2 separate regions of the Homo sapiens genome follow, and region 2 is linked to region 1. Evidence: fine-mapped expression QTL. A gene starts in region 1. The other region holds a variant in brackets. All regions are shown on one strand. Distances are between the middles of the regions.

What was found. PIP is the estimated chance that this variant, and not a neighbour inherited with it, causes the effect.
Region 2: its variant is fine-mapped to the expression of CEACAM4 in whole blood (INTERVAL, PIP above 0.99).

The regions. Positions count from the first base shown.
Region 1 is chr19:41,624,139-41,629,514 of GRCh38, forward strand. It overlaps CEACAM4 (CEA cell adhesion molecule 4), which reads right to left and starts at 2,936. Exons shown (of 7, transcript NM_001817.4): 1 at 2,762-2,936; 2 at 1,463-1,822. The coding sequence starts at 2,825.
Region 2 is chr19:41,598,336-41,603,711 of GRCh38, forward strand. It overlaps LOC105372404 (a long non-coding RNA gene), which reads left to right and starts at 2,722. Exons shown (of 3, transcript XR_935971.3): 1 at 2,722-4,217. It also overlaps the pseudogene CEACAMP3. The variant A/C (reference allele first, on the strand shown) is at 3,102.

The sequences.
Region 1 (5,376 bases):
CCTCCCTCCTTCATAAGAGAACTACAGAGTGTGTGTCTCACGTTGGGCCCAGAACCTCCTAGGATCTTGTATCCAGGTCTCTGTCTCTGAAGAGGTTATAGATCATTCCTTCATTCATTCCCTCCCTCCTTCATGAGAGAACTACGGAGTATGTGTCTCACACTGGGCCCTGGCTGGTGCAGGGTGTGAATGGGGAGAGAAAGCAAAGTCCTCCCCTTTATCCTCCTGTTGGAATGATACCCACACATCAGAAAACACACGAAACCATTTCATGTCCAGAGATGCGGGGTGTGGACCTGAGCGAGGAGGCCTGAACTTCCCCAGCACTGACTGATTGTTGAGGCAGGTGATTTAGTTAAGAAAAAACTGATTAATTCTGTATTTACTCATAACTCTCCAGACCAGAATCTCCCCCTCCGAGCTGTAGACACCTAAGAAGAAAACATCCGAACCAGTGGCTGTTCTGAGGTCCACAGACACCTAGTAAGGCACCAGGGATGAAGGAGAGGACGTGGCAGCAGCTGCAGACAGCCCTCATGTGACTCTGCCAGCTGCGATCTGCCCACCGTGGCCGGTGTCTGTATCTCTCTGTGCCTCAGTTTCCCCTCCATACAATATGTAAATGGAAAATGGTCTGAGGCTTGCCACTTTGTCTGTGAATGAACTTTAAATTATTCACAGGATCTGACATGAAGCTTGGCACAGAGGAGGTGTTCACATCAACAGCATCTGTTATTTGCCTCCATGGGAGAGCACCCCTGGGCATGATCCCCGGTGGACAAGAAGCTGCCAGGAACATTTTCTCCCCTCTGTTCCTACCCCTGGGCCACTGACTGCCCAAGGGCATCTCTTAAGCTCCTCATTCAGGGGGCCAATGCCCTAGTAATCCTGTCCCCCTGCCCTCTCCAGGCTGAGTCCCAGGGAAAGTGGTAGGCTCTGTCCTTGTCTAGATGAGACTCTGGGAGCTGAGCCCTCACTGATGAGAAGCTTCAGGAACCACAGCCCGCAGACATCTGGTAAATCCTTGCTCCCAGTAAGCCCTGCCCAGGAGACCACACCCCAGCCCTGACACAGGCTTCCCGGGGTCACACGGAGTCAGGAGTCCTGAGGCTGGGCTTTTGTGAGGTTCCCAGGACGCCCTCAGGCCAGGCCCTGACCCAGTTCTCCAGGGTCTTTCTCAGGGTCAGGTTCATGGGGAGGGCATGGGGTGCTTGGCTGAGACTGACCTCCCCCTGCTGAGGCCCCCCCGCCCCCGCCATCAGTGTCTGCAGGGCCTGGATGCAGGAAAGGAATTCTGATCTGTTGAAGTTTACCTACCATGTGTGTGTCCTGCACTAAATGCCCAAATCTCAACACGGGACAAAATGCAGAGGGGGATGCAGGCACAGCCCAGGCCTGACAATCTCATGTGTGTGAAGCAGAACTGACCGCCAGCACCCAGAGGTATGGGGGAATCACTCACGGTGTACGTGGAGCTGGCCAGTTGCTTGGTCAGAGTCGTAACTGGCATTTATGGTTCGTAGGGTGTAGGATCCTGCGTCCTCCAGGGTGATGTTTTGGAACAGCAGGGATCCATTGGGGTATACTGTCTCTCGACCACTGTATGCGGCCCCTGGGATATTTGCTTGAATGTCTGTTATATAACCAGCAATGAGAGGGCTCCCTTCTGCCGTTTTCCCCTTGTGCCAATAATAGGCTTGAATAGTTTCTGAAATATTGCAGGCCAGTAGAAGAACATCCTTTCCCTCTGCAGCACTGGACGGCAGGGCTTCAATAGTGAACTGGACAGTGGTGGGCGGGTGCCAGAAGGTTAAAAGTGAGGCTAGGAGGTGAAGACAGCATCAGTCAATACTGGGACCTATGGAGTGGGATGGAAAGATAAGGCCCTGGGTCCTCAGCAGGTCTCCTCATCCCTCAGCCTTGGAGTGTGTGTGTGTGTGTGTGTGTGTGTGTGTGTGTGTGTGTGTGTGTGTGTGTGTGTGTGTGTCCCTGGGTCAGCAGCATGACCCCCATTCCTTCAACAGCTTGGACCTTGGCATTTCCCTGGTGGAATCTTCTTCCCCAGGGGTCTGCACGGCTCCCTCCCCACTGCCCTCAGATCCTGCTCACATCAGGGTGTTTTTGGGAGACCCCTCCCCTGACACCTCCTCTAGAGACCCTGGGTCTTCCCTTTCTGACCTTTCCCAGCTCTGTTCCCTCCAGGGCTCTTGTCAGCACCTGACCTCACATTCTAGATCTCTTTAGGTGTTTGTCTTCCTCCCCATGAGAGCGTGAGCTCTGTGAGGGCGGGGACTTGTGTGATCTTGGTTGCACCCCAGTGCCTGGCACAGGCTGCAGACTCCTGTAGATGAGTTCATGAGCATTCTCAGGGCCTCCAAGTCCTGAGGTTTATTTCCCAGTGTCTGAGGTTGTTGGCTAAGAGCAGTGTTTTATGCCCTGGTTATGTTTTTATTTGAAGTGTCATCTGGTATAGTTATTATCATTTTTCAAAATGTAGTGGCCAGTGATGATTAACCAGGACGAGAGAACACTTGAGATTTTCCTGCCTTTTACCAATTCCAGTTCACTGAGATTTTCCTGTTGTGACCCCTGCCCCTCTCTGATGTTCTCTCCCTTATCCAGCCTCCAACAGAGGCCCTCAGTCCCCTCTCAGAGCCCCAGGAGACCCCAGCCAGAAGCCCTCTATCCCCTCCTACCCAAGAGACCCCAGTCAGTCTCTGTGCTCCCTCTTCCCACCACTCCCAGAGAGTCCTCCCCTCACCTGTGATCAGGAGCCCCTGCCAGGGCCTGTGCCCTCCACGGGGAGCGGCTGAGGGGGGGCCCATGGTCTCTGCTGCCTGCTTGTCCTCTGTGGAGAGGAGCTGGGCTCCAGGAACGCTCTTGTCAGAGCTGCTGTGACTGTCGGCTGTCGGGGCTGCTGACCTTCCTCCTTCTGTGCTGAGCCTCCTCCCGGGCAGAAGCACTTCCCAGGGCCAGGGGCAGAGGCGGGGCTCTTCCCAGGTCACCCCTCTGCCCCTCCCCTCTCATTTCTGCCTTTTTTGTCCCTCCTTCCCCTTTCTCTTCTGTGTACATTACAGTTTCCTAACCACACTTTGAGAAGCAGGGTTGGTGGAGTCCCCTGTCCCCAGAGAGGGTGACTTGTCACCCCTGCACTGACCCTTTGGGAATGTCACCACAAACAGAGGTACTCTGGGGTCTCCCAAACTTGGGGAACTGTTTCCTTTTGTGACACAGAGACCCAGCTGGGCCCCCAGGTCTCCTCATGCTCCCCAATACTCAGGGAGTGTGAGATGATACCCAGCAGGAAGGTGACAGAGGTGGCTCTGTGGGATAGAAAATGGGGGGCGACTACGGGGGGGACCAGTCCTCTCTCTCCAGTGTCACCAGCCTTGCCTCTGACCCAGGGACAGAGATCCAGGCCTGGGGGTCTCAGGAGGATCCCCAGCTCCTGGATGTGGAGGGAGGTGTCCTGCATGTCCTGGGAAGAGAGGACTGTGGTGGAGGGAGGTGGGTGGCTCTGGGTTCTGCTGTCCTTGAGGAGGGATTCAGGGAGATCCTCCCTCTCCGTTTCTGTTGGCTGAGCTGTGGCTTAGGGCCTGTGCATGTTCTCCCTTACCATCCCGGGTGGCCTCTGTCCTCTGTGAAGGTGATTGTCCTGTTGTCACTGTACCTTCCCCATGCATGATACCAGGAGAAAGTGGAGAACTGAGCAGAGAATCCTGGCAGAGCAGGATCCTCAGAGGCTCCAGGAAGGATCAGGAGAGACAGAGCAGGCACATGGGAGGGACTGGAAGGGCCTGCTGGAGCAAAGTATGGAAACCAGGCTTCACCTCCACCTCCTTAGCAAAGCCAGATTCCTGTCCAGGGGAATCCATTTCCTGTGTTGTCTGCGTGCAATGTTGCCCCTGGAGAGCAAGAGGAACCCTGTGGTAAAAGTCAGGGGCTTCCCCAGGGATGCTGACCAGGGTCCACGTGGTATGAGTTGGCCCTGGCCCCTGGGCAGAGGTGGGCTCTGACCTCCAGACTGCAGGGTCAGGTCATCCTTGGTCCTGTTCACTGTGGGTCCCCAGGATGTCCAACTCCATGCAGTGCAGGATGAGCTCAGGGAGAGGACGAGAGTTGTCCAGAGCACTCCTGGTCCTGATTTGGGAGAACTGTCCTGCAGGCGGATGGGCTGCCTCAGAAAGAGCCATCCGTCCCCAAGGTTTCAAAAGAAGGGCCCAGGGAGGTGTCTCTGGGGGTTTAGAGAGAGGGCACTGGCCTGGGAGGTGGTCCTCGGTGTGTTCTGTGTTCCTCCATCACAACACTGGGAGTTCCGCCTCCAGGTCATCTGTGTCCCTGTCTGTCACCTGCCCCAGGCCTCTCCACAGGGCCCAGGAGCTGGGGCAGCTCCTACCTGCAGGCTGCAAGGGATACCTGGTTCCTGTATTAGAGCAGGGGAGGCCCCGTGACCCTCAGTCCCTCTGAGATGGAAACAAAGGCAGATCCTGGGTTATCCTGTCCCCTCCTGCAGGAGAAGTTCCCCTGGATCCCCTGGTGAAATGTCTGCAGGGACCATAGGCAGATGTCCCAAATACTGGGGATCTCGAGGCTGGGGAATCACTCCCTGACTTTCTTGTGGTCATTCTGCCCTGGTGGAAGATCCACCTGGGATCGAATATCCGGAGTTTGTGTCAGTTTTGGTGTGTTTGTGAGAAAGACATATGTTAGAGCCTGGAGGGAATGTCAGTGAATGATGTCAGGGAATGAATTGGGTTTGCCCCTCACTGTTAGAAAGACCCTGAATTCCCTCCCGATGCTACTAGGGTAAAAGCCATGTTCTTATGCTCATTTCTCTAAGGAAATGCAAATAGAGTTTATTAAGGCGTTTCTGGCCAACTAAGGTGGATTTTGTCATGTAGACACAATATAGACCATAATACATGTACATATGCAAAAACACACCTAAACACATATCCACAAACAAATAAAAATCTTACAGCTTTCATTTTAGAATTTTAGTGATGAGATAGTAATACAAACTCACTAGTTGATTAAAGTCAACTGGATCCAATTGTATTTCTGACAAATTGGAATCGTTAACATGGATAAACTTTATTTGCCCCTATAGGTAATATAATGAAGGCTGGGGGAAATATTTTGGGTAAAGCAGTTTCTAATGGCAGTGTAACTTATAAACAAATAAACAAATGAAACCTCTACAGTTTCAGCATCTTTTTTTTTTCTGTTTCACATGAGTTTAGGATTAAATTTTCAATTGCTTACACTTTAGCTAGAACTGGCTGAATTGTATAAGAAAAAAAAATCTCCAACTAGCCTTAAACTAGATTTTTTGTGTGGGTTGGAGGGGGGCGGGTGGTGGTGATGTGGTTTGCT
Region 2 (5,376 bases), 26 kb before region 1:
TAGCTGGGCGTGGCGGCAGGCGCCTGTAATCCCAGCTACTCGGGAGGCTGAGGTAGGAGAATCGTTTGAACCCAGAAGGCGGAGGCTGCAGTGAGCTGAGATCGTGCCACTGCACTCCAGCCTGGGAGACAGAGCCAGACTCCATCTCAAAAAAGAAAAACTATTATATATACATTTATATATATAATTTATTATATAAAAATGTATTGTATATAAATTTATATTAAATACAATTTAATATGATGATTAAAAGTTATATGTTTATTTTAATACATGTTAGAAGAAAATTTAAGCATATCTCAAACCTGTAATTTTATGGATAATATTGCATAGGACAAAGATGTTTTGTCTCAAATTCCCGTCCTCAAGCAATCCACCCACCTCAACCTCTCAAGCAGCTGAGATCACAGACGTGAGCCCCTGCACCCTACTAGGACAAGGATGTTTTGTAAAGTAAATTTATTTAGGAAAAAGCATAAAGCAAATAATAATAACAGTGGTACAAGCTGTAGAGAAAAATCATAAAATGTCTACAAATGTCTGAGGTTTGCATTTTAGTTACTCCTAGGAAATTAGGGTCACATAGCACTGCAGAAAAAAACAACTGAAAATCGTAGACCTGGGCTTTAGCTCTAGATTTGTCCATTTCTAGGACCCCACTCCCTGGACATCTCTGTGACCTCCCTGCTGGGAGTAAATCCAACCTTCCCAGACATTAGAAAACATGAGGAAAACCTTGCATACCCAGAGGGGTTTCTGTGTCATAGAGAAAATAACACTGAGTTTGGGGGTCCCAGGGACTCTCTGTGAGGTGCTGACAGAGCCAATCCCTAGACACAGCAGAGGTCACTTATGGGGAGCACAGGTCATCCTGTTAAGGGATGGGGGTCCCAATAAGCCTTGCTTCTCACAGCGTGGTCTAAGGAACTGAAATGTAGATTGGAGAAAAAGAGGAAAAGAAGACAAGGAGGCAGGACTGAGAGGGGAGGAGGCGGAAAGGCTACCTGTGCAGATCCTCATTGCCACTTACCTTTCCCCGCCCCCACCCCTGGCCCTGGGAAGTGCTTCTGCCCTGGGAGGAGGCTTAGCACAGAGAGAGGAAGGACAGCAGAGCTGACAGTCACAGTAGCTCTGACAAGAGCATTTAATTTATATTAAATACAATTTAATATAACTATTAAAAGTTATATGTTTATTTTAATGCATGTTAGAAGAAAATTTAAGCATATCTCAAACCTGTAATTTTATGGATAATATTGCATAGGACAAAGATGTTGGCATCTGTGACCTTTCGACACATCCCCATTATTTCTCAGCCTGTTCCTTACTTTCTGGCCTCCTTATTTTCTGAAGCCCAAGCTCCTCTCCACAGAGGAGGACAAAGCAGACAGCAGAGCCCATGGGGCCTCCCTCAGCCCCTCCTCACAGAGTGCACATCCCTGGCAGGCGCTTCTGCTCACAGGTGAGGGGAGGGCTCCCTGGGAGTGGATGGGAGGAGGGAGCACAGAGACTGGCTGGGGTTTCTTGGAGAGAACGGGGACCTGAGAGGGACAGAGGGCTTCTGTTGGACACTAAACAGGAAGAAGGGATTACAACAGGAAAATCTAAATAATCTGAGGTTGTTAGTGAAGAAACAATCTCGATTGTTAATGTTTTCCAAGTGAATCATCACTGAGCAGTTAATGTTGAAAACAGATGACAATAATCACAATTTAAGTTGGGGTAATACTCAAGAAAAAAAACAAGGGACACTAAACAGAGCTCTGTGGCAGCACTCCTCATATAGGGGCACCAGCTGTGGGGGACGGGTGAATAGTGTACACTGACACACACATATTTTGCTTTGCCAGTCCAGCTGAGTCTGTCAGGGCCGCTTACAGACTCCCTGCTGAGTCCTATAAACAGTTGTGACCATGGCCTTGATCAGCTAGTGAGACTCATATTTATTCAGTAAGATTAATTAACAAAGGCTTGAGTCAACACCGTTAGAGGGTAATTGACATTGTGGACTTCCCAAGTAGAAAGCAATTAAGCACCTGTGGCACATCAATGGTTAGTCTTAAGATCACATGAGTAAACAAGCTGGCTAGACAAACTACTCTGCCTTCCTTTGTTACTACTTTAATTTGTTTAACTAAAGGTAAAGGGACCACCTTCAGTCAGATCTATTACCAAAGTTATGCAAAGTTTTTGGTCTTCCAAGAAGATTTGTGTCTATCTCTATAACTATCTCTAATATTTTTCCCACCAGCCTGATTGAACTCCAACAGAGCTCTTAGCCAACAACCTCAGCCATTGGAAAATAAATCCCACGTTGTGAAGGGCCCTGGGAACACTCATGAGCTCATCCACAGGAGTCCGCAGCCTGTCCCAGGCACTGGGGTGCAACCAAGATCACACAAGTCCCTGTTCTCACAGAGCTCATGCTCTCATAGGGAGGAAGACAGACATGCAAGGGTATCTAGAATGTGAGGTCAAGTATTGACAAGAGCCCTGGAGGGAACACAGCAGCGAAATGTCAGAAAGGGAAGACCCAGGGTCTCTAGAGGTGTCAGGGAAGGGGTCTCCCAAGGATGCCCTAATGTGAGCAGGACCTGAAGGCAGTAGGGAGGGAGCCAGGCAGACCCCTGGGGAAAAGGACTCCAAACAGGGAAATGCCAAGGTCAGAGGCACTGAAGGAAGGGAGGTCATGCTGCTGACCTTGGCCCAGTAGGACACGCACGCGCGCGCGCGCGCGCACACACACACACACACACACACACACACACACACACACACTCCAAGGCTGAGGGATGAAGAGACCTGTCCAGGACCTAGGGCCCCATCTTTCCACCTCAATGCATAGGGCCCAGTATTAACTGATGCTCTCTCCCCACTCCTAGCCTCACTTTTAACTTTCTGGAACTTGCCTACCACTGCCCAAGTCACTGTTGAAGCTGCAGAAGGCAAGGAGATTCTTCCACTCACCCACAATCTGCCTTAGGCTTGGCTACAACTGGTACAAAGGGGAATTACAGGATATGTACTAGGAACTCAAGTAATTACCCCAGGACCTGCCACAGAGGCTGAGAGACAATATACCCCAATACATGTCTGCTGAT[A/C]CAGAATGTCACCAACAATGACACAGGATCCTACACCCTACAAGTCATAAAAACAGATCTTGTGAATGAAGAAGTAACTGGCCAGTTTCACGTACACAGTGATGTCTCATGAGCTCTGGGTGTTGGGGGTCAGTTCTGCTTCACACACACAGGATTTTCAGGCCTGGGCTGTGCCTGTGTCCCCCTCTACATTACATCCCATTTGGGGGTTTGGACATTTAGTGCAAGACACACACAGGGGAGACAAACTTCCACAGATCAGAATTTCTTTCCTGCATCCAGACCCTGCAGGCACTTGCTACAGAGGAAGGACAGTCTGATGGGGTTGGGGGGAGGCTCAGTAAGGGGAGGTCAGTGTCAGTTCCCCCTCCTGGGTCCCCTCCCCATGGACGTTCCTTGTAGGACCATGTCAGATCCTGGAGTGAGGGGACCCCTGGGAAGCCCCTGTTCAGAAACTCAGCCCTGGAAACCCCTGTCCAGTCCCCTGTCCCAGGATCCTGACTCCATGTGACCCTGGGAAGCCTGTGCCGGGGCTGGGTTGAGGCATCTTGGGCAGGGCTGACTGGGAACAAGGATTTACCAGCTGTCCAAGGGCCATGGCTCTTGCAGCTGGTAGCCAGCCAGGGCTCAGCCCCCAGAGCCTCATCTGGGCAAGGGCAAAGCCTCGTCCTTCACATGAGACTTGGTATGGAGAAGACAGGTAAGCTCCCTAGGACATTAGCCGACTGCCCTGGGGAACTTAGGAGACTCCAAGGGAAGGTCAGCATCCCCAGGGGAGGAATAGAGAAGAGAGGATGTTCCCAGCAGCTCATTGTCCACCAGAGATCAGGCCCAGGGAACACTCTGTTGGAGGCAAATAATCAGAGACGGTGTATTCAGGCGGTTCCTTGGTACCAACCTTTAGGTCAGGTGATCGTGAATATTTTAAAAGTAATTCACAGACAACATGGCAAGCCACTGACCATTTATCATTGTTGGCAGAAAAATCGGAGATCTGTACGTTTGGAAAGGAGACTTTATTTCATATATTTTTCATTTTATTTTTCTATTTTTATTTTTTTTTAGAGACCGGTTCTTGCTCTGTCTCCCAGGTTTGAGTGAAGTGGCTACTCACAGGTGGGACCATAATTCACTGCAGCCTCAATCCCCCGAGCTCAAGCACTCCTCACACCTCAGTCTCGAGTAGCTGGAACTATAGGCATGCACCACTGCACCCAGATAGTTTTTAAAACAAACTTTTATCTTAGGTTCAAAGATACGCATGCAGGTTTGTTATATATGTAATCAGGGGTTTGGTATACAGATTATTTCATGATCCAAGTACTAAGCATAATAGCCAATAGGTATTTTTTCTGATCCTCACTCTCCTCCCTAAAATTTTTTTAAGAGACAGGATCTTGCTATGCTGCCCAGGCTAGTCTCTGGCTCCTGAGCTCAAACTATTCTACCACTTCAACCTCCCAAACCACTGGGATTACAGGTGTGAGCCACTGCACCCAACCAGGTTATTTCTTACACAGGGTTACAGCCTGCAGGCTGGCCATTCCCCAGGGTAGAAGATGCAGCCTCCAGCAGAGACCAATAGCAGGCACTTCAAGGGAGGGGAATGTGGAAGATAGATTTATGCTGAATGAGTTGGCCAGGTATACATATTCAACAGGTTATAGGTGGAGCTATGGATACTCACAAAGGAAGTACACGCACATGCGTGATCAACAAACATGCATGCTACATGCACCCCATGTTCACTTTGGGGTGGAGAATTCAGATTTAAATGTATTAAGTTAGGTCTTATACATCAAAAGATGAAACAAGCATTATGGTACTCAGTGCACCGTGTCTGTATACCAGCAGAACCAGGCCATGCTCAGTGGTCTCTTATTAGGAGAAAGTTACTGAAATCAGTCTCCTGTCCAATTGAAGTGTAGTTGTGGCTGTTGGAACAGGGGTCAGTTAGCCAGTGTTGGTGGATGAGCCGCGATCATTTCAATATTGCTTATCTCGAAGGCTAGTGTTACTTTAGCCGCTAGAGAGAAAGAAAATTCTGTGTTAGAACATAGCTTATTCTTTAAATGTAGGAAAGTGTGGCTTAGCCCTTGCCTGCATGACCTTAGGTTGAGTTTATAATTTGGTATCTTATGGCCACAGAGAGTCTGTTCTGTCAGTCTCATGATCTCGATTTTAGCGTTAATGCTAGTCAGTTGTCACCTCTAAACTTCCAAAGGGAGGGGCTGTAATGAGGTGTAACCTCCCATCCTGTCATGATCAGGAACTC